Linked DNA regions of Homo sapiens: regions 2 and 3 are each linked to region 1. Evidence: fine-mapped expression QTL. A gene starts in region 1. Each other region holds a variant in brackets. All regions are shown on one strand. Distances are from middle to middle.

Region 1 (4,356 bases):
CGCCCAGGCTGGAGTGCAGTGGCGCGATCTCGGCTCACTGCAAGCTCCGTCTCCCAGGTTCACACCATTCTCCTGCCTCAGCCTCCCGAGTAGCTGGGACTACAGGCACCCGCCACCACGCCCGGCTAATTTGTTGTATTTTTAGTAGAGATGGGGTTTCACCGTGCTAGCCAGGATGGTGTCGATCTCCTGACCTCGTGATCCGCCCGCCTCGGCCTCCCAAAGTGCTGGGATTACAGGCGTGAGCCACCGCGCCCGGCAGAATAAGTCTTTTCTTAGCTCAAGCTAGTTTAGCCTGGGTTTCTGCTACTTGGATTGGAATACAATTGTGATTCTCCTGTGAAACAAGTAGAATATACTATACGGAGAAAACGAGATTAACAAGGTATGCAAAAGAAATGTTTAACTATAAAATCGTAAAAAATGTTCTTATAACTATTAAGTATCATGAAAGGAACCCTCATTAAATCAGCATGAGCTAAATAAGCGTTTGCTAAAATAACAAATTTACTCTACTGTGTATATATCTGTTTGTGAACAAACTGCTTTTAAACAACCTACCTTGAACGGTTCAACTATGTAACTAGAGTTTTATTTCAAATAGTTGTAGCTCCTAACTTTCAGAATTCTCCATCTATCATTTGATTATTTTGAACTGAGGAAGACGGTCCATTTCATGTGGACAATGTGATGAGCTGATCAGACATTTGGTCCAGTGTCCCAATTCCCCCACTTCCCCCACTGCCTTCAAGCAACTACTATTATGAAATCAAAATGTGGCCCAAGAAAGACAGTGATGGAAAAATGGGGCGAAAGGGGAAGCTTCAGTTAGAGACCCAAAAAAGTGAAGACTAGTTCTAAGTAAATGTGGCAAAAGAGATCAGTACAGGGCAGACTGCTGCTCCCAGGTATCTGATCCACGGAGCCCTCGCCGACCAAGGGCTAGAGCAGACGTGCAGGCAGGACAAGCGGGCAGTCACAGCGGGCCTGCAGGGCGGGTCCTGCTCACCAGCAAAGAATGCAGACCACACCTACGCGCCTGGTCAGGCCGGGACGGGGCGGCTCCGCCCAGGTTACAGGATTGAAGGAAGGGGGGAGACGGGAAGAGGAGCGGCGAGCGACGGCTGGCAGACAACCTACCCACTCCCAGCCCCGCGCCCACCTCAGGAGCGTCTCGAGCGCGCCCTCGTGCTTGTCCAGCGGACGACCGACTGCGGCGCGGCGCAGCTTGCTGAGCTCCTCCGCCGCGCGGCAGTACTGGGCCTGCTCTTCCCCGCCGCTTGGGTAAGTCTGCTGGATGAACTTCACCAGCGGCTTGGCCAGGTCCACCTCTGAGGTCTTTTTCAGCTGCACCGAGATGAATGTCGCCATGATCAGCGCCTCCGCCGCCGTTCGGGCCAAACAGACCGCGGACAGCTTACGAGGGCCGAGGAGAGAGAGGTACTGGGCTGGCGGACTGGCGGACTGACTGGCTGACAGACTTGCGCTCCGCCTGCGTTCCGGGTCCGGCAACTTCCGGGAGCTCCAGCGCAGGCGCACTGGATGCGGGGTCCTTAAGCTGTCCGCGGTCACGTGAAGGTGTCGCGGCGGCTACGCCCACCTGGACCCAGTTTACCCTGTACTGTGCTGCAAAATATTACTTTCTCCCCATCTGGAATTCTTCCCTTCCTCCTTCCTGCCGCAGTGGTGTACTGAGCACTTTCACGTAAGAGTATTCCTCCACTCGAACAACCCCCCGGAGAAGTACTGGTGTCACTGCCACCTGCGAGAGTTTGCGGCTACCTCCCCAAGAGGCAGTCCCAGGGTTATTGTGACCTATGATGTTTATTCAACTACTGTTGACGGGCTGCTGTGCACAGGGAACCTAGTAGGCAAGACCCCTGCCATCGTGCAGCTTACTGTCAGGTTGACACAGACCTTAAGGTAAACGGAAAAAGTATCAGGAAAAAAACAGGGTGCTTGGGACTTAGGAGATGTTAAGATCGCTTGGAGGACCCTAATTTAAATAAGATAAAGTAGGTTTTCTCCGAGTAGGTTAACTGAAAATGAACCTGTGTCTCTGGTTGCTGTTTTGTAGAAAGAACAAAATTTTAAATAAATTAAAAACGACACCTGTAATTTGAGAAGATGCTTGATATCAGAAGAGGAGAAGAGTGGAGAGGGGTGGAGTGGCAAAGGAGAGCCTCCAAACCAAAAGCCTGCGGCAGAGGCCCTAGGAGGCAAGCACTTAACCATGTTTCAGGACTAGAAACGAAACATGTGACAAGACCTTTAAAAACAAATAGAATGGGATGGAATAAAGTTGGATGAGTAAGCAGGCATCAAATCATTCAGAAACTTGTTGTCCAAGTTGAAGAATTTGTTTAGTATTGTATAATAAATGCAGAGGAAGCTATATACACTTATAATTTACATTTTTTAAAGGCCACGTTGTAGCTCAATCGGATAGTTTGTCTTTTGATGGGATGTAGTATACAGTATCATCATGGTATATTCCAGGCAAAAATATTTAACTTGAATCTGTCAAGCCTTTGCATCTAACACAGTTTATAAAAAATACAACAGATAGATGAACAAACTAAATGATGCCAGAGGAAGTAACTAGACAGATCCAGAAGGTGAAACATTCTGCAGGATAACTGGCCCATCTCTTCAACAATTTGTCATGATAAAAGCAACTGCTTTATGAAAAGAAATTTAAGGGACATAACAGTTTGAATTGGATCCTGGTTTGAACAGACTGTCTATAAAATGCATTTTCAGGACCATTAAAGAAATATGAATGTAGATGGACTGAGTATTGGATAAAATAGAACTGTATTGCCATGGAAAAGATCATTAACTGAAAAGAGCAAGTCACGAAATAGTATGTTACAGCATCTCATTTTGGTTTAAAAATGCACATATATGTATTTATGTACAACTAAAAAAATAGTGGGCTTATACCCTAAGGTGTTAGTATTGGTAATCTTTGGAAGTGGAAATGTGTATTTTTTTCTTTGTGTTTGCCTATCTTTTTCATTGTAACTTTTGCAGCACATAGACTACTTTCATTATAGTAAAAGTTTATTTTACCACAATTTTTTTTTTTTTAGAAAGAGTCTCACTCTGTCACCCAGGCTGGAGTGCAGTGGCACAATCTCAGCCCACTGCAACCTCCACCTCCCAGGTTCAAGCTATTCTCCTGCCTCAGCCTTCTGAGTAGCTGGGACTACAGGTGCACACCACATGCCTGGCTAATTTTTGTATTTTTAATAGAGACTGGATTTCGCGATGTTGGCCCGGCTGGTCTCGAACTCCTGGCCTCAAGTGATCCACCCGCTTTAGCCTCCCAAAGTGCTGGGATTACAGGCGTGAGCCACTGCACCCGGCCTATTTTACCACAATTTATAAAAATTTTTGTTTATTTTAATTAAGCTATTCTATGTTAAAATAAGTAGCCACCCTTGGCTGATGCATAAAGAAAAAATTAGAGGAAGGAAAGAATGGAGGCAAGGAGGCAAATCATGAGACCATTTCAGAAATCAAGACGAAATCAGGAAAGCTAACATTAGCAAGAGTGAACCAAACTGATAATATCTTTGAGTTTAAAACTGAAGAATTTACCAATGAACTGCATAGGAAAGTAAAGAAAAGAGAGTGGTCAAGATAGGTCCTGGTTTTGGGGCCTGAACATCTGAGTGGTTAGTAGAATCATTACCAGTTGATAACCCATGGAAGAGGGTGGGGGATGGGTGGTGTCTTGTAGGTTGGTTGACAGGACTGACCCATTGGGAAGATAACGAAGAAGCAAAGTATATGAAAAGAGGAGAAAGGGTAACCAGAGGAGGGAGGATACAAAGGGAGTGATTAGCCATCAGAAAGATGAGGGACATGACATTTGTTGAGGCAGATGGCGGAGAAAAGAAAGTTAACATAGATGTGGTTAGTTTTGTGGCATTGACCAAAGGAAGATTAAGGTGATACTATCTGATGGCTTGGAATGAAAACCAAACTCCCTGCCACAACATGATGATCTTTCTCTGCAACTTCATATTTTGCCTCTTGTTCCTCATTTGTTACCACTGAGTCACAATGGTCTTTTTAGTTTCTCAAACACACCAAGATCTTTCTTGCCTCATGTGACCTAGAATGTTTTCTCCCTTTCTTCATATCTCAGTTGAAAGGTCTCCTCTCCTCATCATCATACTATCTAAAGTAGATTCCCTCCCTTGTTAACCTCTAGCGCAGCCATTAGTTCCTTCATAACACTTACCCTAACTTGCAAGTATTTTGTTTGTTGATATAATTTTTATCTGACTTCCCCACTAAAATGTAAGCTCCATGAGGGCAAAAATTGTGTGTTTTGTATACTGA
Region 2 (4,356 bases), 120 kb before region 1:
GATCTAATCAATTCACACAATCTGAGGAGTAAATGACTACTGAGGTTGAAAGTGTCACCTTTCCCAGGGTTATATGCATGTAAGGGCTCAACAGAATCCATTCTTTCAGTAAGTAGTTACTAAGCACCTTCTAAGGGCCAAGCAACAAACTAGACACTGGTGATATACCAGGTGACCAAAAAAAGGCCTGGTCCCCAAGTTCCTGGAGCGGATGGGTTAGCAGGGAACTTCTCTGATTATATGATGTGAAGACATAGCTGGGCACTGGGGAGAGGATATCTTAAAATGACCACAAGGCTCCCTGGACACAGAATCCACACCACTGAGCCCAAAGTGGACCTTGGACAAACCCAATGGCTAAGCCAGCCACAACACAGCCCTGCCATTCTAGACAGTTTCTTCAGGCTCTAGAATTTCCTGAGGAAGCCACAACTGCTTTCTCCCTGCAATGCTGTTAGATGATAGGCCTTAACTGTGTGTATCTTGGAAAGACTCGTGCTTTTTGTTTTGTGGTTAGGGTGCAGTGCAGGGGTGAGGGGACCGGGCAAGGGAAAGAATTGAATGATATTAAAGCTCAAATCACAGAGTTGTGATGGGATTAACATCTGTTCCTAGGCAAATTTACCAATGATAATTCAGAACTTCACATTTTCTGGGCAACAAGACTCATTTACACAGAGCATTTGAAAATTCTGTTGTTCTGTCTCCCTAGCCTGTGAAGAGCATGCAGAACGCAATCTGCACTTGCTTATTTTGTATCTAAGCAACTGTCAGATTCCATATCTACTAATAAGAAAGGGTATAATTATACCCTGATACTTTAATTAGTAGCAGATGCCTGTGTTTGTGAATAAAATGTAAGATTTTTAGAGGTCCGGAAGCTCAATTATATGCAAACTTCAAGTGCCTGATGTTTAGGCCCCTAATTCTTCCTGTTGGTCAGCACAGACACAGAAGCCCAAACAGTAGCCTTTACCAGATTTCACAATAGTGAGGAGGGCTGGGGGTCTATTTACCTGAGATATTCATATCATTGCATACCACTGTGTAATAGATGCAGCCATTCACTAGCAATTTTCCAGAAAAGATGGTAACATCTTTATTTTTAATTCACCATTTCTTTCTACCTACAAAACCTACTCAAGTAATACACCCTAAAAGAAAAGAAATAGAACTTGGAGAATGAGGGCAGCCCACTGTAAATTGTGGTTGGGTTGCAGTTTGGACAGCATCTTCCTGGGTGTATTTTTGAGTTTATCTATCGCAGAAGGTGTATTTCCTCAAGCAAAAAAAAAAAAGAAAGAAAGAAAGAAAAGAAAAAAAAGCCTTTAAGTGTACTAGCTTGGTTTTTTCCCCCTCTTAGAAGTTAAAGCAAGTTCCCATAAATTAAAAAATAAATAAATTTGCTTCCTCAGGTCTAAAAGCACTATGTCTTGTATCAAGGCCTTTGGGGAAGGACAAAAGTGATCAAACATGTCCTTGGAATCACTAATATTGCTGCTTACTCATTTCCACCCGGTAAATGCAAAGCCCTCAAGGTTTAAAATATCATCAGAATTAAAAAAAAAAAATGAAGAAAGGAAGGAAAGAGGGAAGGCAGGGAGAGAGGGAAGGAGGGAGGGAGGGAGAGAAGAAAGAAGGAATGAATCCTTCCATAGTCTATGCCTGTGTTCATCACTCACCAGCAGGCCAGCCAGGTGACCTGGGCTTACAAGTTGAATCATAAGCTAGATGGATAAGCTGATCACTAATCCATATACTAATAGGTAC[T/G]GTGTCTCATACTCTTCGTTATAACCTAGATCTCCAGCACAGGGATTGGCCCAGAGTGGGCACTTGCCTATGTTTTGCTGAAATAAACCAAATGGAATTCTCTGGGCCTCAGTTTTCCCATCTGAACAAGGCAAGAGAGAGACAGAATAATTTCTAGCATCCATCCTATAATTCTGAACCCTATTACCTATAGGCTTGTAGACTTCTGCACTGGTCAGCTGTCCAGCCAAGCCTAAATTCAGCTTAGAGAAAGAGAATAACTTGCAAAAGTCCAGATCCTGAACTTAAACACTGAAATCTCTAAGAATAATGTGTCTCTACCCACCTGTCATGACTCCAAGATATTTCAGGCAGCACTCTCACCAACAAGTCAAGAAAACATGGCTTTTTCTTCAACGACTGTCCAACAAAATTCTTCAACTTTTGGCTCCACTGACCAAATGAGAGGGTCCTACCGGAACCAACCACCATAGAATAAAAGAGGCCAGCTCTATAAGGTGACCCTACAATTTGGGGAATTTCACAAAACTTCCCTTTGCCTTGTTTTCTTAGAAGCCAAGTCCCTCAAGTCCAAAGATGGACTCCAGCCTCTCCAATATGAGTGCAACAGGGCTCCACCCTACAAGTTAGTCCCAGGGAATCTGTGGAGGGTGAAGAAAAGAGAAATTTAGGAGCCAGGATAATTCTGCTTTTTTTTTTCCACCCCAGATTCAGCCAAACAGCTGGACACAAGAGGACTGTGATCCAAGCACTTCACCTCCAAGTCTTTAAGAGGCATGAGGGTGTTACCCACGAGCACCGGGGCAGCATGTGGGCATATCATGCCAGCACAGGGCGTGGTGGGAAAGGATGTGCTCATTCCCTCAGGCCAGCTTTCACTAACCAATGTTGCAGAATGCCTGCCACTGCCTCCCTGACCTCAGGGAGTAGATTAGGAACTTTTGACCCATGCTTAATTCCCTCAGCTTCACCATACCAGCTGCTGACATCCCTCCCCTGTGGGGAGACTGGTGTGTTTAACATAGCTAGAGGCAAAAAAGAAGCAATCACTCTTGCCCAAATCTCTCACTCCACAAAAAAACCTTCCCAGACTTGCTGGTGAAGTCTCAGTTTCTTTAATATTATCCCAACAATCTCCCTTCACAACCCAACTGTGCTCAAGCGCACTTCCTCCCCCGGCACCTTGCCTTTATCATTTTGTCTTGCCCCTTGACAGTGACAGAGCTATGCCTGCTTCCCGCTCGTGCCTGGCCATCCATTGCCATCTAGCGTTTGCACACTGGCAGATCTGCCTAACTCAGAGAGCTGCTGAGAGTATTTCTTTGGGCTATTTTGTTCATTGCCCTGGAAACAGATACTAAAACTGGGTTTGGCTTTCCCCATCCCTTGCAGGGAAATCGTTGTTTCTGACAACAGGGACACACCAGCATGGGACTTCTAGGTATTGCATCTGCCCCAGCCCCCATTCTGAAAGAAGCCCTTGAACTAGCTTTTGTATAGCAAAAACACCTCTAGAGCTTCTCAAATGGTACACTGGACCAAGGAGGACCTTGTTAAAATGCAGATTCTGATCTAGCAGGCCTGGGGTGGGTGGATCCAGGAGTCTGCAGTTCTAATAAGCTTCCAGGCAGTGTCCATGCTGCTGGACAAGAGGCTGTGCTTGAAACACAAAGAGCTAAAGGAGAAACAGAGACTCGTCAACACTTAATTAGCAGCTAAGTACTCAAAAAGAGCCTCAGTTCTGTCTTTAAATAGCACAGTGGCCCCTACACAGTGCACAGGACAACCCTGTTGCAGACAGCTTGGAGTGTGCAGGAAGCCTGCAGCCGTAGTGGGCAGCAGAGGGGAGTGTTTTAAGTACTTGCACCTGGAGCTTAAAATCCGACTCCACCACTTACAATGTAGTCTCATCCTCAGTTTTCTTCTTAATAAAATGGGGACAATAATGACCAACTGACCGAGATAATACACATGGAACAATTTAGCCCTGTGGCTGGCACTGAGTGGCTCACTATTACTATGATTCACTGTTAGGAAACCACCAAGTCCCCCGTTGCACTGCCCTTGACTGTCACTTTGTTCTACGAGAGATGATGAGTATGAGAATAGACAGGGGCTTCTCGAGGCCACAACAGCAGACCCTTATATTAAAAAAAGCTGGGAGATGGAGAGGAGAGATGTGAGGAGCAGACGAGGTAATAACTGCTGCTGCCTTTTGATTTCTGCTGAAGCCTCTGGGACCTGCCTCCTCAGTCGTAAATTGTTCTCCAAGGGAATGCAACAACTGATAACCCATGGGGGGGTGGGGTGCGGCGGCTGTCCTCCAGCCTTGCTCGCACACCTCCTCCCCCGCCCCTCTACTTGATGGCCACAGCTTTTATTTTTGCAAGACCTTCCTTGCTTCTACCCACTGGGCAGGAGAAGTGGGTAGTCAAGTCCCAGCTCTGGGGGCTTTGGGCCCTGAGGTGACACCATGAAGAGTGGGTGTCGCCCAGGACAGTGGTGGGTGATAGGCAATCCTGCTCAGTTCTCAGGCTGAGGCCCCAAGGAGCTGACAGTGTGAGGAGTCAGGGAGGACAGAGCTTG
Region 3 (4,000 bases), 41 kb before region 1:
GTAGTGGTGAGCACCTATAATCCCAGCTACTTGGGAGGCTGAGGCACAAGAATCACCTGAAGCCGGGAGGCGAAGGTTGCAGTGAGCCAAGATCTCACCACTGCATTCCAGCCTGGGCGACAGAGTGAGACTCCGTCTCGGGGGAAAAAAAAAAAAAAGTCAAAAAATAAGAAAAACTATGACCGCATTAAAATATATTAGGTATCGTCGGCTTACAGTTCAAACTTCTTTCAGTCTAAGTAATTAAAAGTCAAAAATTCTATCCTAAAAAAGCAGTCTTTTATACTTTTGATTGTTACAGCATCTCTAACAAGTCAGAAACAATACACAAAATAGTTATTTTTTTCTTTTTTGCTCTCTTTCAACAGAATCAATAGTTATAATTTCACATCATCTAGGCAAAATGTCAACAGAAAATAGATGATCTAAGTATTCATTACAGAATCTTCATCTGTTCTCAGTTTTGTAGCACAATAACAATTCCTCAGTTATTTCAGTTACATGATGGCGAAGGGAGGTACATATCCCTATCTACTATGTAACGACAAAAAGGCAAATGAAATGATGTAATACAATGAACTCCTCAGAAAATAAGCTCTGTAAAATCTCAGACTGCCTGTTTATCATATGCTAGAGTAAACTTACATTCCTTTCTTGTTAGAGAAAAATGATGGTAAAATCCATGCATTAATCAAAACTAAAAACATGAAAAGGCAAGCCAACTACAAGAGAAATACAGTTGGCCCTTGAACAACACAGATTTGAACTACATGAGTCCGTGTACCTGTGGACTTTCACCTCTTTCACCTCTGCCACCTGTAAGACAGCAAGACCAACCCTCCTTCCGCCTCTTCCTCAGCCTACTCAAACTTGAAATAGACAAGGATGAAGACCTTTATGATGATCCATTTCCATTTAATCATAGTAAATATATTTTCTCTTCCTTATGATTTTCTTAATAGTATTTTTTCTCTAGCTTATTTATTATAAGAATATACTATATAATACATATACAAAGTATGTGTTAATTGACTGTTTATCGGTAAGGCTTCTGGTCAACAGCAGGCTATTAGTAGTTAAGTTTTGGGGACTCAGAAGTTATATGCAGATTTGACTGTGCAGGGGGGTCAGCATCCATAACCCCATGTTGTTCAGGGTCACCTATATTCTCAATTATATGTATCTGACAAAGGACTTGCCTCCAAAATATGTAAAGAAGTCTTTAACTATTAAGAAAAACTCACTTTTAAAAACTGAGAAAAAGATTTCAATAGACACTTTACAGAAAATATATGAATGGCTAGTAAGCACATGAAAAGCTGCTCAGTATCATTAGCAATTAGGAGAATGCAAACTAAATCACAGTGAGATTCTGCTACACACACACTAAAGTAGCTAAAACTAAAAAGACTGACATACCAAGTATTGGTGAGGATGCAGAACAATTGTATTTTCAAACAGTGCAGATAGGATATAAAATGGAACAACCACTTTGGAAAACAACCTGGCAATTTTGTATAAAATTAAATATGCTAACCACACAACCTAACAATTTGTCTCCTAAGTATTTACCCAAGAGAACTAAAATATGTCCACACGAAGATTTATACATGAATGTTCACAGAAACTGAAATGCCCATTAACAGGTGAAAGAGTTAACAAACTGCTCTATAACCATAAAATGGAATACTGCCGTATAACCATAAAATGGAATACTGCCCTATAACCATAAAATGGAATACTGCTCAGCCATAGAAAAGACTGAAACTGATACACATAATATAGATGAATCTCAAAAACAGTAGCTAAGTGAAAAAAAGCAAAACACATTCTAAGTATATACTGTACATACTGTAAGTACTGTATATGCATATGCTAGAATGATTACACGTGTTTTAAATTGTATAAAAAGTAAAACTAAACTTAAGACAGGGAGCAGATCAATAGCGGCCAGGGGCTAAAAGAAGAAGGACTGGGAAAGGGGCATGAGAGAATTTTTTTAGGGTAACAGTAATGTTCTCTAACTTAATCATAGTGCCGGTTACATGGGTACATACATTTATCAAAACTAACTAAATGACCAAGCATGGTGGCTCATGCCCGTAATCCCAGCACTTTGGGAGGTCAAGGCAGGAGGATCGCTTGAGCCCAGGAGTTCAAGACCAGCCTGGGCAACAAAGTGAGATCTTGTCTCTATAAAAATATCAAAAAATTAGCCAGGTGTGGTGGCTTGCACCTGTGGCCTCAGCTACACAGGAGGCTGAGGCAGGAGGATCACCTGAGCCCAGAAGGTTGAGACTGCAGTGAGCCATGTTTAGTGTTTACACCACTGCACTCCAGCCTGGTGACAATAAGACCCTGTCCCAAAAAACAAAAAA[T/A]ATATATATATACATAAATATATATATATACACATACACACACACACACACATATACATATAATAATTGAACTGTGCACTTAGAATAGGTGTATTTTGTGTGTGTAAAATATACCTAAAAATTTTTTAAACCAATGAATTATTTTCTTAGTATTCAGTCCATCAGAAACAAAAATTGGTTCAGAACACTAAATGTACCATGTATCTGAGTTCATTTCTACTTCTCATTTCCAAATAAATACCTCTTAAAATACAAATTTTTAGTCCTCATATCCTCACCTTGTTTCTATAATTTCTTCCAACTATATTTGCTAGAGCTTCATAAATACAGTGTCCAACAAAAATAGTTGTAAGTGTGTGTCTACATTTTCTATTTTATATACTCTTGACATTTAGCTCTAAGCTCAGAAACTAAAATGTTCATAAACTAAAGAACAACCAAACGGAAAACTTTAGGCTCTAAAATTAAGCTCTACCTACCCATTTGCCAAAGTGGTGGCTTCTCTCATCTGAGCAATTGATCTGTTAACCAAATCGGCTTTCCTCTGATTATAGGCAGCCAAAGACTGCTGTACTGACACGGGAACCATCTTCTCAAACAGATCTAAAATTAGGAAGAGAAATTACAACAAAATTTTTAGACAAAAACCCGAACTGTAAAAGTGACTGTTTATATTTTCTTTCCAATATTCACATAGTCTATAAATATTTATTGTCTATTGACATTTAAAGATCAAAACTAAATCACTATTTAAAGCACAATGATAAAGAGAATTTTTAGATCACTACATTCATGGACAACGGCAACAATGAAAAGTTTCTTCTTTGAACTTAATTTTCTTTCTTTTTCAGATGTGTTCATCACTGAGTTTGAGGGATCTTCAGTGACACTGTTCATCTGTTGATTAAACTGAATGAGGGGCCGGGAGCAGTGGCTAAGGCCTGTAATCCCAGCACTTTGGGAGGCCGAGGCAGGTGGCTCACCTGAGGTCAGGAGTTCAAGACCAGTCTGGCCAACTTGGCAAAACCCCATCTCTACTAAAAATACAAAAATTAGCCAGTGTAATGGTAGGAGCCTGTAGTCCCAGCTACTGGGGAGGCTGAGGCAGGAGAATCGTCTGAACCCAGGAGGCGGAGGTTGCAGTGAGCCGAGATTGCACCACTGCACCACAGCCTGGGCAACAGAGCAAGACTCGGTCTCAAAAAAAAAAAAAAAATTGACTGAGTGGGTCACGGCAGCAGGATTCCATTTCTGGCTCCAACACTTCCTAGCTATGTGACCTTGAGGAAATTACTTAACCACTCTGTGCATCAGTATCCTCATCAAATAGGGATAATAACAGTACCCATCTCAGGGCACTTCTGAAAACAAATGAGCTAATATTTGTAAAGTGCTTAAAGAGTGCCTGGCACATGGTAAACACTTTGTGTTTGCTAAATAAACATATAATCACCCTTTCCCAGTAACAGAATATTCTCCTTGGAATCTCAGCTAGAGGCTACCATCTGTTGTATACATCTACAATATAATAACATGTATTTATCTCATACAAATACCACTCCAGAAGTTTACATGTTTAAAGAAATAGGCCGGGCACGGTGGCTCATGCCTGTAATCCAAGC

Which allele goes with the higher level. Alleles are on the strand shown, and positions count from the first base shown. SD is a standard deviation of normalised expression in the study named. Not every link is listed here.
For the expression in monocytes after R848 of the gene that starts at base 1,581 in region 1, T is the low allele of the variant in region 3 and A is the other (moderate effect, 0.71 SD a copy in Quach 2016).

Evidence for each region. PIP is the estimated chance that this variant, and not a neighbour inherited with it, causes the effect.
Region 2: its variant is the best candidate, but not a certain one, in a credible set for the expression of PDCD6IP-DT in tibial artery (GTEx, PIP 0.85).
Region 3: its variant is the best candidate, but not a certain one, in a credible set for the expression of PDCD6IP-DT in monocytes after R848 (Quach 2016, PIP 0.59).

The regions. Positions count from the first base shown.
Region 1 is chr3:33,795,744-33,800,099 of GRCh38, reverse strand. It overlaps PDCD6IP-DT (PDCD6IP divergent transcript), which reads left to right and starts at 1,581. Exons shown (of 2, transcript NR_183731.1): 1 at 1,581-1,705; 2 at 2,078-4,356. It overlaps PDCD6IP (programmed cell death 6 interacting protein), which reads right to left and starts at 1,470. Exons shown (of 18, transcript NM_013374.6): 1 at 1,163-1,470. The coding sequence starts at 1,371. RefSeq lists enhancers at 774-1,307, 1,254-1,603.
Region 2 is chr3:33,914,655-33,919,010 of GRCh38, reverse strand. No RefSeq gene overlaps it. Among named protein-coding and RNA genes, the nearest start is that of PDCD6IP, 120 kb to the right of the region's middle. RefSeq lists an enhancer at 1-359. The variant T/G (reference allele first, on the strand shown) is at 1,771.
Region 3 is chr3:33,837,185-33,841,184 of GRCh38, reverse strand. PDCD6IP (programmed cell death 6 interacting protein) reads right to left here. Exons shown (of 18, transcript NM_013374.6): 9 at 2,858-2,981. Among named protein-coding and RNA genes, the nearest start is that of PDCD6IP, 41 kb to the right of the region's middle. The variant T/A (reference allele first, on the strand shown) is at 2,379.